3 linked regions of the Homo sapiens genome follow. The protein of the gene in region 1 purifies or fractionates together with the protein of each later gene. This does not show direct contact. Each region holds a gene or a part of one and is shown on either strand. Other genes may lie near its edges.

Region 1 (7,614 bases):
GGAGTTCAAAACCAGATTGGCCAACATGGTGAAATCCTGTCTCTACTAAAAATCCAAAAATTAGCCAGCCGTAGTGGTGCATGCCTGTAATCCCAGCTACTCAGGAGGCTGAGGCAGGAGAATCACTTAAACCCGGAAGATGGAGGTTGCAGTGCAGCCGAGATTGCGCCACTGCACTCCAGCCGGGGCGACAAAGTGAGACCATGTCTAAAAAAAAAAAAGGCTGGACACGGTGGCTCACGCCTGTAATCCCAGCACTTTGGGAGGCTGAGGTGGGTAGATTACGAGGTCAGGAGTTCAAGACCAGCCTGACCAACATGGTGAAACCCTGTCTCTACTAAAAATACAAAAATTAGCCAGGCATGGTGGCACACGTGTAATCCCCGCTACTCAGGAAGCTGAGGCAGGAGAATCGCTTGAACCCAGGAGGTGGAGTTTGCAGTGAGATGAGATCGCACCACTTCACTCCAGCCTGGGTAACAGAGTGAGACTCCGTCTCAAAAAAAAAAAAAAAAAAATTTAAAAAGCTAGGCGTGGTGGCTCACGCCTGTAACCCCAGCACTTTGGGAGGCCAAGGTGGGAGGATTGCTTGAGCTCAGGAGTTCATGACCAGCCTGAGCAACATAGCAAGACCCTGTCTCTGTTTAAAAAAAAAAAAGAAAGGCCGGGTGCAGTGGCTCACGCCTGTAATCCCAGCACTTTGGGAGGCTGAGGCGGGCAGATCACAAGGTCAGGTGATCAAGACCATCCTGGCTAACACAGTGAAATCCCGTCTCTACTAAAAAATACAAAAAATTAGCCGGGCGTGGTGGCGGTTGCCTGTAGTCCCAGCTACTCGGGAGACTGAGGCAGGAGAATGGCGTGAACCCAGGAGGTGGAGCTTGCAGTGAGCCGAGATTGCGCCACTGCACTCCAGCCTGGGCGACAGAGCGAGATTCCATCTCAAAAAAAAAAAAAAAAAATGAAGGAGGCTGGGCGTGGTGGTGGCTTACGCCTGTAATCCCAGCACTTTGGGAGCCCAAGGTGGGAGGATTACTTGAGCCCAGGAGTTTGAGACCAGCTAGGCAATGTAGTGAGACCCTTTCTCTACAAAAAAAAAAAAAAAATTTAGCCAGGTGCCGTGCATGCCTGTGGTCCCAGCTACTTGGAAGGCTGAGGTGGGAGGATCACTTGAGCCTGAGAGATGGAGACTGCAGTGAGCCATGATTATACCACTGCACTCCAGCAGCCTGGGCAAGAAAGCAAGACCTTGTCTCCAAAAAAAAAAAAAGGCATGAGGATGAATTCAATAAATTCAAGAATATTCTGTGTACTACCTTGACCAAATTGTATTAATATTTAGAGAATATTATACCAAACAACTACACCGTGTACTTGAATTTCTAGCGTACGTACAATGTGGATCGAGATACCCTGCACCATTCTAAAAAGTCAGTACATTTCAAAGTATTGAAATTATATGACCACAAAGGAGTTAAAAATCATTAACAGTAAGCTGCCCCCCAAAAAGCCCAAGTACTTGGGCATTAAGCAACACACATATTCTCTGGATCATAGAAAAGAAAGCACAATGGAAATAAGCAAATATTTCTAACTTAATGACGCTCAATATATGAAAATGTGTGGCATGCAGTTAAAACAGTTCTTGGAGGGAAAGGTGTACCTTTAAATGCTTGTATTAGAAGATAAAGGTGGGCCGGGTGCGGTGGCTCACGCCTGTAATCCCAGCACTTTGGGAGGCCGAGGCAGGTGGATCATGAGGTCAGGAGATCGAGACCATCCTGGCTAACATGGTGAAACCCCATCTCCACTAAAAATACAAAAAATTAGCCATGCATGGTGGTGGGTGCCTGTAGTCCCAGCTACTCAGGAGTCTGAGGCAGGAGAATGGCGTGAACCTGGGAGGCAGAGCTTGCAGTGAGCCGAGATCACGCCATTGCACTCCAGCCTGGGCGACAGAGCAAGACTCCGTCAAAAAAAAAAAAAAAAAAGAGGGTTTAAAGTTAATGAGCTGCCTGTAATCCCAGCACTTTGGGAGGCTGAGTCAGGAGGATTGCTTGAGCCCAGGAGTTCAAGATCAGGCTGGGTAACATAATAGGACCCTGTCTCTACAATTTTTTTTTTTTTAATTAGCCAGGTGTGGTGGTGGACACCTGTAGTCCCAGCTACTCAGGAGGCTGAGATGGGATGATCTCTTGAGCCCAGCAGGGTGAGGCTGCAGTGAGTCATGATCATGCTGCTTCACTGTAGCCTGAGCAATAGAGCAAGACCCTGTCTCAAAAAAAAAATGTTTTTTTGTTGTTTTTTTTTTGAGACAGAGTCTCGCTCTGTTGCCCAGGCTGGAGTGCAGTGGCATGATCTCAGCTCACTGCAAGCTCTCCTTCCCGGGTTCACGCCATTCTCCAGCCTCAGCCTCCCGAGTAGCTGGGACTACAGGCACCCACTACCACATCTGGCTAATTAAAAAAAATTTTTTTTTAATAAAAAGAGTTTATATAAGCATCCATCTTAAGAAGCTATTAATACAAATTTCTGCTGGTGAAGTTTAAATTTAAAAACAAAACATGAGCTAGGAAAAGAAGAGCCAATTGAACATAAGGTAACCAGAAAAAAGAAAAGAATAAAGTCAAGTCAAAAGGCAATAAAATAGAAAATAAAACAACAAATCCAAACTGTGGCACTTTGAAAAGATCAATAACAATGATTAGCTCCTAGGAAGACCGATAAGAGACAAGGAGACTTCACTAATTTATGTGTCAGGAATGAAAGAAGGAACATCACTACAGACCCTACAGACATTAAAAGGATAGTAAGGGGATATAAATAACTTTACACCAATACATTTGACAACTCTGATGAAATGAGCAAATTCCTTGAAGATACAAGCATGCCAATTGCAATAAAGGAATATTACAGGGCACTGTGGGAGAATTTAGCTAGGGGATTGTTCTAAGTCCAGAGGGGCCTGGAAAGTTTTCCCAGAAGTGCTATTTAAACTGAGACCTGAAGGAGAAGCAGGATTTGACCAGGTTGACAGAATTGTGTTCCAGGCCAGGGAAATAGTGTGTGCAAAGGCCCTGAGGTTGGATTGAACTTTCTGTGTCCAAAGAAAAAAGTTTACTCTAATGACGCATTTTGGTGTTTGATGACCACATGCCACATCCTTCTTGGGTCCAAACCCCCAAGCAAACCTGACTGGCTTGAACAGAAATGTTTAAAAAGATAAATGCAAACCCAGTAGTAAGAGAAACTTGGAAGTTTCTGGGCTGTAAACAGGAGGCAGTTTATCCTGTGAACTATATCACAAACTATATCCAGAATTGATCTGGAACTGGTATTCCCTTTCATGTGGCTGATCAAACTTCTGAGTCTTTTTCCTCCCTGTAACTTTACCTTGTGAGCATGCACTACCCACTAGGCGTTGCATTTCCTACTACAAGTTCTTTGAATCTAATGTCCACTGCTCTTTTTTTTTTTTTTTTTTTTTGAGATGGAATTTCACTCTTGTTGCCCAGGCTGGAGTGCAATGGCGCGATCTCAACTCACCACAATCTCCATCTCCTGGGTTCAAGTGATTCTCCTGCCTCAGCCTCCCGAGTAGCTGGGATTACAGGCGTGTGCCACCACGCCCGGCTAATTTTTTGTATATAGTAGAGACGGGGTTTCACCACGTTGGCCTGGTCTCGAACTCCTGACCTCAGGTGATCTGCCCACCTCAGCCTCCCAAAGTGCTGGGATTACAGGCGTGAGCCACCACGTCTGGCCTAATGTCTACTACTCTTAGCCCCATTCTGCAGAGCAGTATACTGAAGCCTCAAAGGAGGTAAGCCATGCCTGAGGTCACAGAGGCCAAGCCCTAACCACCATGTCCTCCCACTCCTGCCCATATTTGTTTAAATGTTGGTGCTGGTTAGGCTATGGTTTGTGTCTTGGGCATGGGTTTCCAAACATCCCACTGCTGTCACCCTGTCTCATTCCCAGGAGTTCTCTTAGAAGGAGAGACAAAAGGCTGGGCACGGTGGCTCACGCCTGAAATCCCAGCACTTTGGGAGGCTGGGGCGGGCAGATAATGAGGTCAAGAGATCGAGACCATCCTGGCCAACACAGCAAAACCCCGTCTCTACTAAAAATACAAAAATTAGCTGTGCATGATGGCTCCTGCCTGTAGTCCCAGCTACTCAGGAGGCTGAGGCAGGAGAATCACTCGAACCTGGGAGGTGGAGGCTGCAGTGAGCCGAGATCGCTCCACTGCACTCCAGCCTGGGCAACAGAGCAAGACTCTGTCTCAAAAAATAAAAATAAAAAAAGAGGAAAAAATTGTGAAAACCACCTAAACATCTCATCCATTTTTTTCCCCTCTAATCTGCAGAACCGCAACCAGAGAGGTGCGCGGGTCTGATGTGTGTTTGGGGAAGGGGTGGGGAGGGGAGAGAGTCCCTTTCAGTGCCCAAGCCTGTGTGTGCAACTTCCTGCCAGTGAGGAAACTCTCAGCTCGAGAATCAGCCCTGGTTCTCCTTTCCCCGATCTGGCCTCACAGGAGGAGTTGGCGGGGAGCCTTGGGCCCCTCTGGCCTCAGCCGGATTTCCCAGCCAAACGCAGAGAGAGATGCCCTGGACCATCTTGCTCTTTGCAGCTGGTGAGTCTGAAGCCCCCCTCTCAGATCCCCCACGCCTTTCCCCCCATCCTCTGTCCACCTTGCCGCTCCAGGGGCAGAAACCAGTGCAGGGGCTGCCGTTCTCAGGGCATCGAGGAGGCTGAGCCCTTGGCAGATGGGTTTTCCCCCTGAGCCTTGGAAACTCTCCAGTAGTGTTGGTTTTTTCTTCTTAGGCTCCTCATCACCCCCAAGTTTATGAATATCAGAAATATCACCCCTCTGGAGTCAGCTGTGCCCACACCCCATGATTCAGCCCCGCTTCGTCTCTGAAGGCTCCTTGAGTGCTGGGGCAGCAGGAGGGTCTACCTAGGGGGATATCAGTGTGGCAGGGGTGGGTGGGGGTTGGAGGCTGGACGAGGGAGGGTTTGTATAGACCTCACCTGGCCAGACACTCTGCTCAGAAGCCTGTGGGCAATCAGGAGAGAGATGGATCCCCAGGAGACCATCCTGCAGGAAGCCGTGCTCCAAAATCCGTATTCTTCACCCAAGCCTGGGAAAGGAGATAAAAGTCCTCTGCCCTTCCTTCTCCTGCCCTCCCTCTCACTCACCCCCTCCCCTTCCTGCCACCCACCTCACTCACCCCCTCCCTCCTGCCATGATGGCCTCCTTGCTGCTCCTTTTTTAATATTTATTTTTATTTTTAAATAGAGACAGGGTCTCACTGTGTTCTCCAGGCTAGTCTCAAATTCCTGGGCTCAAGCAGTCCTCCCACCTTGGCCTCCCAAAGTGCTGGGATTACAGGCGTGAGCCACTGCATCAGGTGTTTGCTCCTCCTTAAACACCCCCATTCCCCTTCCATCCCCTGGACCTTTGCCTATGCTGTTCCCTCTGTTGGAATGCCCTTCCCCAGCTCTCCAAATGGGTCCTTCCTCACCACTCAGGACTCAGCTCGTGGGAGGCCAAGGTGGGAGGATCACTTGAGGTGAGGATCTGGGCAACATAGTGAGATCCCATCTCTACACAAAATAAGCAAAATTAGCTAGCCAGGTTCACCAGCCTGGCCAACATGGTGAAACCCCGTCTCTACTAAAAATATAAAAATTAGCCAGGCATGGTGGCACATAGTCCCAGGTACTCAGGAGGCTGAGGCCACTGTACTCCAGCCTGGGCGACAAAGCAAGATTTTGTCTCTAAATAAATAAATAAAGTAATAATAAATTAAATAAAAAATAAGAGTATAGTTGTGTTGCTATGTAATAACCAATGCTATTATTGAAAACTGATGGCCAGGCATGGTAGCTCACGCCTATAATCCCAGCACTTTGGGAGGCCGAGGTGGGGGGAGTCACACGAGGCCAGGAGTTCGAGACCAGTCTGGCCAATATAGTGAAACCCCATCTCTACTAAAAATATAAAAATTGGCCAGGCATAGTGCCACATGCCTGTAATCCTAGCTACTTGGGAGGCTGGAGAATCACTTGAACCCGGGAGGTGGAGGCTGTAGTGAGCCGAGATCACACCACTACATTCCATCCTGGGTGGCAGAGTGAGACTCCGACTCACAAAAAAAAGAAAAAAGAAAAGTAATTCAACTACAGGGAGCCGTCACCATGTGCCAGGCAGTGTGGGGTAGGGTCACTAGCCTCCTGACTCACAGAAAACACAAGGCTGAGGGAGGGTGGTCTACTTGCCCGAGGCCACATAGCCAGGGCAGCCTCCACTCTCACCACGCACCCACCCACCTTACCCTCTGCATTGCAGGCTCCTTGGCGATCCCAGCACCATCCATCCGGCTGGTGCCCCCGTACCCAAGCAGCCAAGAGGACCCCATCCACATCGCATGCATGGCCCCTGGGAACTTCCCGGGGGCGAATTTCACACTGTATCGAGGGGGGCAGGTGGTCCAGCTCCTGCAGGCCCCCACGGACCAGCGCGGGGTGACATTTAACCTGAGCGGCGGCAGCAGCAAGGCTCCAGGGGGACCCTTCCACTGCCAGTATGGAGTGTTAGGTGAGCTCAACCAGTCCCAGCTGTCAGACCTCAGCGAGCCCGTGAACGTCTCCTTCCCAGGTAAGGCCCTTCTATGGGATCTCACTGCCGGGGGCTTAATTTTCTCACATGGACCTCTTGTGTGTACTGTTGACTCAGAGGCCTTCCCAGAAAAAGCCAGGCTTACACCCTGCCAGGACTTACTCGCCTTTCCTTTTTCAATCTTCTCAGCCAGCCCAAAAGGGGATTTGTTGGTTCACTGAGCTTAAGTCAGCTCACAGGGCCGACTTCAGGTATGGCTAGATCCAGGTGCTGAAAGCTGTCAGGGACCATTTGCCCCATCTCTGCTCCACATTCTTCTCCGTCTTATTGTCAGGCAGCCCGTCTCCCTCTTGGTGCCAAAATTGGTGCTGTGATTCTTCCCATTTTGCAGATAAGGAAACTGAGGCACAGGAGGTACACACCTTGTACACAGGTAACAGGTAGCCAGTCTGGGATGCCATTGCCTTCCAAAAACCATGAATTACACCTCCGTGACATACATTACTTCCCCTCTTGGCCACATACTTTTTTTGTTTGTTTGCTTTGAGATAGTTATGCTCTTGTTGCCCAGGCTGGAGTGCAGTGGCACGATCTTGGCTCACTGCAGCCTCTGCCTCCTGGTTCAAGCGATTCTTCTGCCTCAGCCTCCTGAGTATCTGGGATTACAGGTGTGTGCCACCATGCCCGGCTAATTTTTGTATTTTTAGTAAAGACAGGATTTCACCATGTTGGCCAGGCCAGTCTCGAACCCCTGACCTCATGATCCGCCTACCTCAGCCTCCCAAAGTGCTGGAATTACAGGCATGAGCCACTGCACCTGGCTTTTTTTTTTTTTTAAATGAGACAAGGTCGTGCAGACTAGAGGGCAATGGCACAATCATAGCTCACTTCATCCTCCAATTCCTATCCTCAAGTGATCCTCCCACCTCAGCCTCCTAAGTAGCTGAGACTACAGGTGTGCACCACCATGCCCAGCTAATTTAAAAAAT
Region 2 (7,109 bases), on another chromosome or scaffold:
GAATAATCCTCAAGCTTTATAGGTTAGGGGGTTGTGTGTTTACCACATCTTGCTGAGACTTGTCTTTTTCCTGGAGAGCTCTCAGTGCCCATGGATCCACCTACGGACGTAGGCAGATGACCTCCATCTTCACTTCCTCATGGATGCTAACACCAGATGTGCACTCCCCACAAAAACTGGTGTTTCCCAAATGGAACTCATTGTTTCAAACTAGCATAGTGAAAAGCACATGAAATCATCTGGGTTCAAGTTACATCTGAGTGACTCACTGACATCCATATAACCTTGAGCATATTACTTCACATCTCTTTCTGACCCTCTTTGCATCTGTAAAGTGACTAATCAACCATGGAGGGTCGTTTTGAGGATGAAAGGAGGTTTTATGTAAAGCACCCAGCACGTCGGTAGGTGTCTGATGAATGTTAGTTTCCTTCCTATCTTCTGTCTCCTAAGCTAGTCCTTCATTGTTGCCTCACACCTAGGTTTGCTGCTGCTGACTGTAGGTGCTCCTTTTTACTGTTGACTTTGTCTTTCAAATCTGGTTCAAATCAAACTTACACCTCCCTTGCCGAGAATCACGAACTGGCTCCCTGTTTCCTACCTGAAGGAAGTGAGACACTCCCACTAGACTTTCAAAGCCCTCCCTTTTCTTACTCATCCTCCATCCACTATATTCTTACTGTAACCTTATTTTAAAAGATGACACCATTCCACCATGCTCCCACTTCACTGTTCCATAAGCTAGCCACCTGTGTTATCAGCACCACACCAGCCTGGAAGAGCCAGGACCCCAGCGCTGGCTGTCATACGTCACTCCCACAGGCTCTCCTGGTCTAGTGTAGGCACTTAATAAATGCTTGTTGAGTGAAATTTCTCCTCAGATGTTTAGGAACTTGTGCTGAAGAATTTTAGGACAAAATTTCAGAAAATGACCAATTAATACCATGCATATTGTTTTTTCTCCCCTTGTATAAAAATTGTGCTCAGTTTCGAAGACTTGGAAAAGGAGATAAGGGAAAAATATCTACAATTCCACCATTTATAGATGCATTTTATTATCATTTTTAATGATAAAGGCATTTAACCCATTAGATGGTTACTTTGCATTGAGGAGCTAGTATGTGCTAGTGCGGCTATATGTGCACTTTCTTATACATTCTCATTTAATATGAACTTTCAAAAGTAATATGAAATTATATATATTTCAAATTTTTGTACAAAAAATACAGGAATTAGCCAGGCATGGTGGTGCAGGTCTGTAGTCCTAGCTACTTGGGAGGCTGAGGTAGGAGGAGTACTTGAGCCTGGTAGATCAAGGCTGCAGTGAGCTGTGATTGGACCACTGCACTCCAGCCTGGGTGACAGGGTGAGACCCTGTCTCGGGGTGGGGGTGGGATGAAGAAAAGAAAGAAACTGTGAGCTTAGTAGTAATGCCATAACTCTACTTTTGTTGCTTAGATTGGTTTATCTTGGAAGCTAAAGGGCATTGCTCATCCTGAAGATCAGCTGACCATTGACAATCAGCCATGTCATCCAGGCCTCTTGAAAGTCCACCTCCTTACAGGCCTGATGAATTGTAAGTAAATAATTCTTTAGTTATTCTCTTTTAAAAAGTCTATCACATGTAAACAATAAGTATGGTTGAAACTTTAAGTGTTTGCTTTTAAAAATAAAACGATATGTGTACTTGTAAATTTAAATTGTATCAAAGGGTCTGCACTGAAAACTGAATTTCTCTCAACTTTCAGAATGACAGTTTGTCTCTGCTAGGACAACTGCTGTCACCTATTCCTAATGTTTGTTTCAAGAGATTGCCAAGGTTTATATTTGTATGTTCCTTTTTGTTTTGTACAAATGATAATGAAGCTTCCATTTAAATGCCTCATTTAGGTGGCCATTGGGAACATATTGTCAGTTTTTAAAAATAACAGCTTTAGGCCGGGTGCGGTGGCTCACGCCTGTAATCCCAGCACCTTGGGAGGCCGAGGCTGGCGGATCACAAGGTCAAGAGATCGAGACCATCCTGGCCAACATGGTGAACTCCCGTCTCTACTAAAAATACAAAAATTAGCTGGCTGTGGTGGCGCGCACCTCTAATCCCAGCTACTTGCCTGTAATCCCAGCTACTTGGGAGGCTGAGGCAGGAGATTCACTTGAACCCAGGAGGTGGAGGTTGCAGTGAGCCGAGATCACGCCACTGCACTCCAGCCTAGAGACAGAGCGAGACTCCGTCTGAAAAAAAGAAAAAAGGCCAGGCCTGGTGGCTCATGCCTGTAATCCCAGCACTTTGGGAGGCCGAGGCGGGTGGATCACCTGAGGTCGGGAGTTTAAGACCATCCTGACCAACGTGGAGAAACCCCCATCTCTACTGAAAATACAAAATTAGCCGGGCATGGTGATGCATGCCTATAATTGCAGCTATTTGGGAGGCTGAGACAGGAGAATCGCTTGAACCCAGGAGGCGGAGGTTGAGGTGAGCTGAGATGGCGCCATTGCACTCTAGACTGGGTGACAAGAGCAAAACTCCGTCTCAAAAAATAAATAAATAAATAAAAATAACAGCTTTATTGAGATATAATTAACATACTTTACAATTTACCCATTTAGAATGGATAGTTTAATGGTTTTTAGTATATTCACAGAGTTGTAGAACCATCACCACAATTAATTTTAGAACATTTCATTACTCTCCAAAGAAACCTATCCATTGGCAGTCACCTCCCAGTTCCATCAGCCCTAAGCAACTATTGGTCTACTTTCTGTCTCTATAGATTTGTCTATTCTGCATATTTTGTATAAATGGAGAAATCACGTAATATGTGGCCTTTTGTAACTGGCTTCTTTCACTTAGCATAATACTTTCCATACTGTCAGTTTTAAGAGTGATTCCTGCCATGATCTAAAACAAGCAGTGTTGAGGGGTTTTGGGCTCCTTGGTCATGTGAAGACTTATCAGTGAATTTTTGAATTCCAAATTTGCTATCAAACATTGATAGGGATTTCCTCCTCTAAGTAGTTTGCAGCTTTAACCATGATAAGTGTAGTGGAGTGTGATATAGGCAAAAACAAACAGTTTCTCCTGCTGTTCTGTCACAACACATCTGTGACCTCTGATCACCAGAATTTGTGGGGATATTTCCCCACCAGCAACCAAGTAATCAGTTCTACAGTGGACAATAGCTGTGTGTCCTCTAATTATCAGTTCAATTCTGACACTGTCAGAGATAGCATCAGATCACAGGTTCAGGGCTCATTCCCACAAGACTGCCCCCACTTCACGTAGCAGCCACAAGCTCAGGTTGTGGCCTGTGTTTCTGACCCACCTACAGTAAATCAGGATTCCCACAGTTGTCTCCTTGGGTGCAATTAATTTGCTAAAGTGGCTTGCAGAACTCAGGGAAACAGTACTTACCATTACTGGTTTATTATAAAGGGTATTACAAAAGCCAGGTGTGGTGGTGCATGCCTGTTATCCCAGCTACTCAGAAGGCTGAGGCAGGAGGATTGCTTGAGCCCAGGAGTTTGAGGCCAGCCTGGGCAACATAGGGAAACCCTGTCTTTTAAGAATGAATGAATGAATGAACAAACAAATGATATTACAATGGATGCCAACAAACACCAGATGAAGAGGTGGACAGGGCGAGGTATGTGGGAAGCAGCCCTCCCTGGTTGTGCCACCCTCCAGGAACTTGCACATGTTCAGCTGTCCAGAAGTTCTGTGAATTCGGTCCTTTTGGGTTTTTATGGAAGCTTTATGACATAGGCATGATTGACTAAATCATTGGCCATTGGTGAGCAGTTTAAGCTTCAGCCCCTCTTTCCTGTCCAGAGAGGGTTGGGGCTGAAAAGTTCCAACCCTCTAATCCTAGCTCCCATCCTGAAGCTTCCTAGGGCTGCCAGGAACCTATCATCTCATTAGCATATAAGGGATACTTATCACTTTGGAGAGTCCAAAGATTTTAGGAGTTGTATGCCAGAAAATGGAGATGAAGACTAAATACATATTTTACAATATCACGTGAAGGTTGTGTTCCAGTTCTTTAACCTCCTTACTAGTGCCTAAAACATGGTGGGGACACAAGTTGTTTATGACAATACAGTTTTTAAAACATACTAGAGAATATAGTAATTGAGTAATGCACCACTAATCTGACACTTATTTTGTGTTGCTTTTGTAAATAATGGTGAACTGCAACATACATAAAGAAAAGGACACAGAACATATGTAGGAGATCATGAGGAAAGACCAAGCAAACATACATACTCATCACCCAGGTCAAGAAACAGAACACTTCAAAGTCCTTCCCTGTGTCCTCTCCTTTTCTCTGGAGACCACTGTCCTGACGTATGATCATTACCTGCTTTTATCATTTTATCATCTTGTATATCCTAAACATTTCAGTTTAGTTTTACCTGTTTTATTTATTTATTTTTGAGACAGACTCTCACTTTGTTGCCCAGGCTGGAGTGCAGTGGCACAATCTTGGCTCACTGCAACCTCCACTTCCTGGATTCAAGCAATTCTCCTGCCTCAGCCTCCCAAGTAGATGGGATTACAGGTAACCACCACAATGCACAACCAATTTTTATGCTTTTAGTAGAGACGGGGTTTCGCCATGTTGGCCAGGCTGGTCTCAAATTCCTGACCTCAGGTGACCCGCCCACCTCCTAAAGTGCTGGGATTATAGGTGTGAGCCACCACATCTGGCCAGTTTTACCTGTTTTAAAACTTTATGTAAATATAATAATGCGATATGTATTTTTTCATTTTTTTCAGCATTACCTGTAACTGCATGTATTCATAGTTCATCAGTTTTGGCTTCATAGCACTGTAGAAATATAACATGAGCCATATATGTAATTTTATACTTTCATTAAAAATAAAAAGATAATTTTTTTTTTTTAAGACAGAGTTTTGCTCTTTTTGCCCAGGCTGGAGTGCAATGGCACGGTCTCGGCTTACTGCAACCTCCACCTCCTGGGTTCAAGTGATTCTCCTGCCTCAGCCTCCCAAGTAGCTGGGATTACAAGCACACACCACCACGCCCAACTAGTTTTTGTATTTTCAGTAGAGATGGGGTTTCACCAGGATAGCCAGGCCGGTCTCGAACTCCTGACCTCAGGTGATCCACCCGCCTCGGCCTCCCAGAGTGCTGGGATTACAGGCGTGAGCCACCGTGCCTGGCCAAAAGAAGAAATTAATTTTAATATATTTCACTTAATCTTGTATATCTAAAACATTACTTCATCACGTGATTGATGTAAAAAATGAATGATTCAGGAAATATTTTACATTCTTTCTTCATATTATATCTTTGAAATCCATTGTGCATTTTTAAATTTTTTTGCCCTGTCACCCAGGCTGGAGTGCAGTGGGTGTGATCGCAGCTCACTGCAACCTCTGCCTCCTGGGTTCAAGGGATTCTTGATTTTCGTGCCTCAGCCTCCCAAGTAAGTGGGATTACAGGCATGTGTCACCATGCCTGGCTAATTTTTGTATTTTTAGTAGAGATAGGGTTTTACCATGTTCTCCAGGCTGGTCTCAAACTCCTGGCCTCAAGTGATCTGCCCACCTCAGACTCTCCACTGTGCATTTTAACAGCGTATCTCAGTTTGGACTAGCCACATTTCTTTTTTTTTGAGACGGAGTCTTGCTCTGTCACTCAGGGTAGAGTGCAATGGCACGATCTCGGCTCACTGCAACCTCCACCTCCCGGGTTCAAGCAATTCTCGTGCCTCAGCCTCCTGAGTAGCTGGGATTACAGGCGCATGCCACCACGTCTGGCTAATTTTTGTATTTTTAGTAGAGATGGGGTTTCACCATGTTGGCCAGGCTGGTCTTGAACCCCTGACCTCAAGTGATCCACCCGCCTTGGCCTCCCAAAGTGCTGGGATTACAGACATGAGCCACCGTGCCCAGCCGGACTAGATACATTTCAAGTGTATGATAGACCCAAGTGGCTAGTGGCTGCCACATTGGACAGTATAGCTATGGAGTATTCCATTGTATGGATATATTACAGTTACCCATTCCACTGTAGGTAATTGGTACAATCACTTTGGAAAACAGTTTGATACTGTCTAGTGAAGTTGAAGATATAAAAATATGTGATCCAGAAATTCTCCTGGTTATATACCCTAGAAAAATAAGTACTGTTCCGTACCAGAATACACATTCAAGGATGTTTATAGTTAAACTGTTTACAATACCCCCAAACAGAGATAACCCAAATGTCTGAGCAGAATGGGTTGTGGCTAGAGGCCAATAATCTTATGTTTTAACAAGCCCTCCAGGTGATTCCTGTGCACAGATAAGCTTTAGTTTCATTTACCCAATGGTTTAAATTATTCCAAATAAGTTGTGTTCTTTCTGCTTACTACCAAAAAATGCTAACTTGAAATTATTTTCATGTTCATTTCAGCAAACCGAATCATTATGCACCAAGCAATGACATATATGGTGGAGAGATGCATGTTCGACCAATGCTCTCTCAGCCAGCCTACTCTTTTTACCCAGAAGATGAAATTCTTCACTTCTACAAATGGACCTCTCCTCCAGGAGTGATTCGGATCCTGTCTATGCTCATTATTGTGATGTGCATTGCCATCTTTGCCTGTGTGGCCTCCACGCTTGCCTGGGACAGAGGCTATGGAACTTCCCTTTTAGGAGGTAGTGTAGGCTACCCTTATGGAGGAAGTGGCTTTGGTAGCTACGGAAGTGGCTATGGCTATGGCTATGGTTATGGCTATGGCTACGGAGGCTATACAGACCCAAGAGCAGCAAAGGGCTTCATGTTGGCCATGGCTGCCTTTTGTTTCATTGCCGCGTTGGTGATCTTTGTTACCAGTGTTATAAGATCTGAAATGTCCAGAACAAGAAGATACTACTTAAGTGTGATAATAGTGAGTGCTATCCTGGGCATCATGGTGTTTATTGCCACAATTGTCTATATAATGGGAGTGAACCCAACTGCTCAGTCTTCTGGATCTCTATATGGTTCACAAATATATGCCCTCTGCAACCAATTTTATACACCTGCAGCTACTGGACTCTACGTGGATCAGTATTTGTATCACTACTGTGTTGTGGATCCCCAGGAGGTATGAGT
Region 3 (7,109 bases), on another chromosome or scaffold:
GTATACATACACATATACATACACATATAGGGAGAGAGACAGAGAGAGCCAAAAGCCTGTGGGTTGTGACCAACTCAGCATTCCACTGGAGGCTATATGATCAAACAGCAAACTGTTTATCATGAATGCAGGATGTGGGCAAACTCACAACTGCACCTGCCACCAGAAGGTTTGTTGAGTGTAATCACTCCCTGGTGCCGTGCTCCTTGAGGTTATCTACTGGAACATCTAGAGACTACTGTTCAGAGAATGCAGCTGTGCAGGCCTGCTCTAAGTCAAGCAGCTGACTGACAACCACCCCCTTCTCTGTATCTCCTTTACTCAATAAATACGAAGGGCTATAGAAGCTCTGGGCCCTTGTTCACTAAAAGCAAGGAGCCCCCTGACCCCTTCTTCCAAATACATTCTTTTGTCTTTGTCTTTATTCTCACGTTCATCCTCCTTTGTTCACTCCAACAGGGATTAGGGCTGCAGCATATATATAGATCTATATATACATACACACACACACACACACACACACACACACACATATATATAGATCTATATATATATATGTGTGTGTGTGTGTGTGTGTATGTATCCCCACTCAATGGAATATTATTTGCAATAAAAAAGGACATACTATACATGCTACAACATGGATGAATCCCAAAAACATATGCTAAGTAAAAGAAGCCAATCATGAACTATCATATGAGATACTATTGATATGAAATGTTCAGAATAGGCAAATGACATAGAAATTTGATTAGTGGTTTCCTGGGCCTGGGTGGAGGCTAAGAACGAGGAGTGAATGCCAAAGGGTAAGGGGTTTCTCTATGGGGTGAAGGGAATATTCTGAAATTAGGTTGTAGTGATGGTTGTACAATGTACTAAAACCCACTAAAATGCTCACTTTAAATGGCTGAATTGTATGGTATATAAAATATGTCCCAATAAAGCTATTAAAAAATAGGAAATAAAGAAAGGGACCACACCCCCTCCTGTCTGGTCAGCTGTCACTTTGCCACCTCGATCTCTTCTTGGTTCCCCTTCCCTTATGCCGGAATCCCTCCATCAATCACCAACTTCCTCTCTTTCTCCCTCTCCCATTGCTGTGGCTCTACAGACAGAACTAACCTCACACGGAATGCTCAATCAAGGTTCAGTTGAGTGATGTCCCCGAAGTTGACGAGTTTTTTTCTGTCCCTTCAGAAAGCTTAAGCAGGGCTGGGTGTGGTGGCGCACGCCTGTAATCCCAGAACTTTGGGAGGCTGAGGTGGGCAGATCACTTGAGGTCAGGAGTGACCAGCCTGGCCAACATGGTGAAACCCCCTTCTCTACTAAAAATTCAAGAAAAATTAGCAGGGCATGGTGGCGCAAGCCTGTAATCCCAGCTACTCAGAAGGCTGAGGCAGGAGAATCGTTTGAAACTGGGAGGTGCAGGGTGCAGTGAGCTGAGATTGTGCCACTGTACTCCAGCCTGAGCAACAAAGTGAGACTCCATCTCAAAAAAAAAAAAAAAGTTAAGCAATGAAATGAAATGTGTCAATGTTCTAAAACTACTGGGGCAGGGGAAGATAATAAATAGGTATTAAATGATCCTTATGTTTCAGGCACATCACCACCATGTACTTCAGCCAGTAGGCAGTTATTACTGTGCTCACTACATGTTCAACAAATACTTACTGAGCATTCATTATGAGCTGGGCTGTGTTCCAGATGTTGGTCGTATTGTAGTAAACCACATGGACAAAAAGACCAGACATTTCTTACGCATGGGGCTTACTGACAAAACAATAAAATTAATGACTTCAACCTAAAGCATGCTGACAGGTGATAAGCAAGTGGAGAAAAAGCAGGAAGTGATGAGCAGGGAGTGCGGTGCAGGAGGGAGGTTGCAACTTCAGATATGGTGGCCAGGCAACAGCCCCCTGATGTGCCCTTTGAGCAAAGATGGGGAGGAGGAGGGCAGGACGCATCTCAAACACACCTGGGACAGAGGGAGCTGGGTGCCAAGGGGTGGAGGAAGTCCTGAGGTGCAGAAGTCCCGAGGCAGGTGTGTGTCCGGTACATCCAGGGAACAGAGCAGCTGCAGCATGACACTGAGGAGAGTGGAGGCAGCTGGGCAGAGATGGGAGGCTTAATCTTGCTAGGCCCCGTCAGTAACATAAGGGCTTTGTGTTTTCCTTTGAGGAAGATGGGAACCACCACAGGTTCTGAACAGAGGAGCGTGCAAAGTGAGAAAAAAAAGAGCAGGACCAAGCTCCTTCAACTCTGGGTCATGACTGATTTTTCTACAGATGAACATCTGACCCCAAAGGAACTGGGGCCAGTCAAAATCTCCCCTCTCCAAAACTGAAAGAGGAGACTGGGTTAGAGGGTGTGCGGCCTTAAACGGAGAGGTGATGAAGGGTGGGGAAAGCTATTAATACTGTCCTGCCACATCCCATCCGAAGCAAGAAAGCCGACCTGCACATTAAGGCCCCAGAGCCACAGCAGTGCGCAAAGGTGAGAGAAGCAGCCCAAAGGAAGAGAAACCTGCAGTGGGCCTCATTCTACAGCCTGATGTCCTTCCAGACCTACAGGACAAGGGATATGCGAGACCTGCCTGGACCTTCCAATATATCTCCTTCTGCCTTGGCCTCTGGCTTTCTCATCCTTCCAACAGAAGATCCCAGTTCAGACAGGCAATGAGCTTTTCATGTTGTCGAAGTACCGCATAGGACTAAAGTGGGTGCCATGCATGGTTCTCAGGATCAGTCAGCTTGGGTGACTCCTGAGGGAAGGGAAGGGCCTCGTGGAGGGGCAGCTGGATGCCAAGGCCTTTCTGCCCACTTCACTGCAGGCCTGGCTTCCTCCAGCTGCTGCAGGTACACCACAAAGGCCTCTACATAACTCATCAAGGTGCAAATCAATTACCTCACTCCCTTTCAAATTTCCTCATGTGGCAGTATCCATAGGAGAGCTTTCAGCATATTCTAGGAGGCTAAAAAATACACTTAGTGATCTAAGTTATTGTTACTCTTTTAAAAGGAAGTTGATTAAGCTGTGAAATATTTGCTTTGGGTGAAGTAGGTTTGGGTGTTTGAAGGGCCTGTAGGCTCTCTGTCCACAGCAGGCTGCAGTCCTACTCCGTGTGGGAAGCACGGCCAGGGCTAACTGCTCTTCCTCCTCCATTGCCTGCTGAGCAGCATGCCAAGATGCCAAACACATGCCCAGTGAAAATAAGGGCTTAATGAATGCATCTCTGTCAACTCCAGGCCAGACTTGTCCTGAATGACTGTTTCTAACTCTAGGGAACACGAGGAGGGAAGAACAATCCTACAAGAGTCTTGCTCAAGGCACACGTCTCTGTGCCCTCTACCCACAAGCATGCAGCTGCGCTGATGAGCCTCAGCAGACAGCAGAGACCAGAGGATGGGCTGCAGGGCTGCACCTACCACGAAGGCCTCCAAGGCTGCTCCTCTCCAGCTGCAACCAACAAGACCCCCATACAAACTGGTATCCTGGTCAACACCAGTCTATTTCATAGGACAAATGAAGATTTCAATAGTTACAATTATTCACAAGAAAAGTGCCAGTCCTACACTACTCCAAAGAAATGAACTCATCAGCCCTGTCACCTTTGGTGAGTGATGCAGAGGGCAGCAAGGGATGCCTGTTAGATGTTCTCTCAAGGCAGACACTGGGTGAGCTGTGGGGTTTAAATGCTGGCCCTGAACATCCTTCAAGCTAAATAATAATCCCGACCAGGAAGGCACTATCTTTCACAGCCAGGCCATATTTTTCTTAGGAATTAAAGGTAGAAAAAATCCCCGCCACTTTCCATCTACAGCAACTTCAAAATAAATCCTTCCTCATGGCATGTATTCCAGTACTAATTTCATCTATGGTTTCATCTGCTTTTCTTAATCTTCTTTTCCCTTCACTGAATTTCCCTACATAAAAATCTCAACCCTGTTGCCCTGTTGCGTGTTTTGGTTAGAACTTAAAATCCCTTTGAGGAACAAAGCTGGGCAGTACATACATTACTCAATTATGACATAGGAACCTGCAATCATTCCTAATCATCTAATGATTACTTGATTGTCTGTTCTATTATCCTTCAGGCTGTGAGTTCAATGAGAAGGAATGAACAAACAGATGAACAGATGAATGAATGAGCAACAAGCCAACAGGGTTTCTGTTCAGTTAGCCTCGGAGCACACAGCTCTTCATGTGGCGGAGACACAAAGAGTCCTTCGGTCGCCTGTAAAGCTTCTACTAGACAATTGTCTCTTCTCAGAAACTACAGGAAATGGTATTCTGATCTCCAGGATAGCTCATGCACAGGCAAAGCTAATTTCTCATCTAAGTTATACACAATGTAAAAGGTCAGTGACAAAAAGGGTTCCATTGTTAAATCTATTTCCCAAGTGAGATTTGACCTAAATAGTGCATAACATTTTAAGAATCCAAGTAAGAATACTTTTTCTTTTGAGACAGGGTCTCGCTCTGCCCCTCGGGCTGGAGTGCAGTGGCATGATCATAGCTCACTGCAGCCTGACCTCCTGGGCTTAAGTGATCCTTTCACCTCAGCCTTCCAAGTAGCTGGGACCACAGGTACGTGCCACCATGGCCAGCTGACTTTTAAATTTTGTAGAGTCGGGGTTTCACTATGTTGTCCAGACTGGTCTCAAACTCCTGGGCTCAAGTGATCCTCCCACCTTGACCTCCCAAAGTGCTGAAATTACTGACGTGAGCCATGGAGCCCAGCTGTAAAAACAAATTTTTATTTTTTCTTGAGTCTTAAAATATACGTTACCTCCATACTGTCTCTGAATATCCTGCAGACACATTTACTCAAAAGTCACAAAACAGAAGCTAGGAATATACACACTCCTTCCTAGACAAGTGTTCATATAAGATGAATGTATTCATCATATCTTACTAATACTATTACAATCTTTGTAGGGAATCAACACCAGGAAACCTAGACGTATACAGGGAGTACCTTGGCCATATAACCACTCTCTTAGCCCTACTGTTTTACTTACCTGCATTTTTAATTTCAGCATTTCCTGGATTTGAACGTGATTTCACAAATGACTTTAGGTGGGGGCTACAGAACAATCTTCACAATCTCTTCCGGGATATCTATCCTCTATTCTCCCAGGAGAACGACAACACTGAAGCTTATGCCACGGTGTCCACAGGGTAACCTGGTGAGGATTCCCTGCTCCAACCTCACTCCGCTGAGTAACAGGAACGGGCCCTGGACCACCTCGGCTGGGGATGGGTGTGGCCATCCTGAGGGCACTCACCAGGGTGACGATGGCACATTCAGCCGTCAGCTGAGCAGCACTGAACAGTGTCCGAACGAACCGGTAAATCTGCTTCTGCTCTGGGTTGTGTTTGTCATAATCTGGTGGCACTTCGGATTTCTGGGGAAGAAAATATTTTCAGATGACTGATCTCCCGATTGGAGCAAAAGAGAAATAATTAAATCATCTCATGAAACACACGGAGGAGATTACCGAAAGAGGGTGAAGATTTTCATCAAAAATATCTAAGAGCATCCTTCCATCTGGGTCCCTGGTAGGGAAAATAATAGAAAATGAAACTTACTTTCTGCAAGAATGTCATTCAAATAAAACAAAAATACATTTTAATTCAATGACTTTTTTTTTTTTTTTGGGATACGGAGTCTCACTCTGTTGCCCAGGCTGGAGTGCAGTGGCGCCATCTCAGCTCACTGCAACCTCCACCTCCTGGGTTCAAGTGATTCTCCTGCTTCAGCCTTCCAATTAGCTGGGATTACAGGCACACAACACCACACCCGGCTAATTTTTTTTTTTTGTATTTTTAGTAGAGACAAGGTTTCACCATGTTAGCCAGGCTGGTCTCGAACTCCTGACCTCAGGAGATCCACCTGCTTTGTCCTCCCAAAGTTCTGGGATTACAGGTGTGAGCCACTGCACCCAGCCAATTCAACTATTTCAAGAAACACAAGTCAGTGCTAAATGGTTATTCATGAATAATGATTTTTCTTGGGTGCAATACTTAATCACTTATGATTAAAATAGCCCAAGGAAATAAAGGTTATAAACCACACTTAGCTAAATTAAGTAAAAATTTAATTTTAATTTTTTGAGTTTTCAAATGAATCGAATCTAGGCAAATGACTTAAATTTGACATCTTATTTCCAAGCAAAGGTTGTTGGATCTGCTTAAGCCATCAACATACTGTGGGTGATAGGAAAGAAGCGCCAGGGTAAGAATGAATATCAATGTATCCTAGAGATCAGTCTGATTATTCACAACACGCAACGTCACTACTTCATTTAAGTTTCACAATTTTATACTGAAAAACAACAGGTGACAGATAAAAAGTCTTTAGTCAATAACCTATATGTGAACAGTTAGCTCTTACCAGGCTGGTACGTGCACAGAACCACTTAAAGAGGTAGCTTTCACTGTGAACACAGTACCGTGGGCCGCTGGGCTCTGCGGGGACCCTCCGTACCTCACGAGTGACAGCTCTACTTTCATCTGTTATATGAAATTTAAGTTTTGCCTAAAAAATTTTCTTTAAACAACCAAACTTGGAAATGACAGCTTTTGGCTAGCTGCATGTAATTTCCATAGTCTGTGCTTCAGTGTCAGGCTTCAGAACTTCAGAAGGCTACAGACCTGTCCCTAACACACACTTATCATGACAAACATTACAATTTCTGCTTTAGAAATTTACCATCTGTGTAAAAATAAAAGAGAAAGAGCTTAACAAAACAGCTCAATTTTCATTCCTACATTTGCACAACAGCAATTATTATTATTATTTTTTGAGACGGAGTCTTGCTCTGTCACCAGGCTGGAGTGCACTGGTGCAATCTCGGCTCACTGCAACCTCCACCTCCCGGGTTCAAGCGATTCTCCTGCCTCAGCCTCCTTGTAGAGGCTGCCTCAATATCCCTTGTAGCTGGGATTATAAGCACGCGCCACCAGGCCCAGCTGATTTTTGTATTTTTAGTAGAGACGGAGTTTCAGCATGTTGGCCAGGATGGTCTCAATCTCCAGACCTCGTGATCCGCCTGCCTCGGCCTCCCAAAGTGCTAGGATTACAGGCGTAAGCCACTGCGCTCAGC

Evidence for each region.
Region 2: the proteins of C19orf38 (region 1) and OCLN purify together in Homo sapiens (co-immunoprecipitation; 2 studies listed by BioGRID and IntAct, with this or other methods). This does not show direct contact.
Region 3: the proteins of C19orf38 (region 1) and CCNY purify together in Homo sapiens (co-immunoprecipitation; 2 studies listed by BioGRID and IntAct, with this or other methods). This does not show direct contact.

Annotation. Positions count from the first base shown.
Region 1 is NC_000019.10:10,843,904-10,851,517, forward strand, and holds the start of C19orf38 (protein HIDE1 precursor), read left to right. Parts: upstream 1-4,511; 5' UTR 4,512-4,605; coding exon 4,606-4,636; intron 4,637-6,355; coding exon 6,356-6,664; intron 6,665-7,614.
Region 2 is NC_000005.10:69,502,719-69,509,827, forward strand, and holds part of OCLN (occludin), read left to right. Parts: intron 1-1,458; 5' UTR 1,459-1,526; coding exon 1,527-1,576; intron 1,577-6,422; coding exon 6,423-7,101; intron 7,102-7,109. UniProt on the Homo sapiens protein: May play a role in the formation and regulation of the tight junction (TJ) paracellular permeability barrier.
Region 3 is NC_000010.11:35,528,423-35,535,531, reverse strand, and holds part of CCNY (cyclin-Y), read right to left. Parts: intron 5,560-7,109; coding exon 5,502-5,559; intron 5,409-5,501; coding exon 5,289-5,408; intron 1-5,288. UniProt on the Homo sapiens protein: Positive regulatory subunit of the cyclin-dependent kinases CDK14/PFTK1 and CDK16.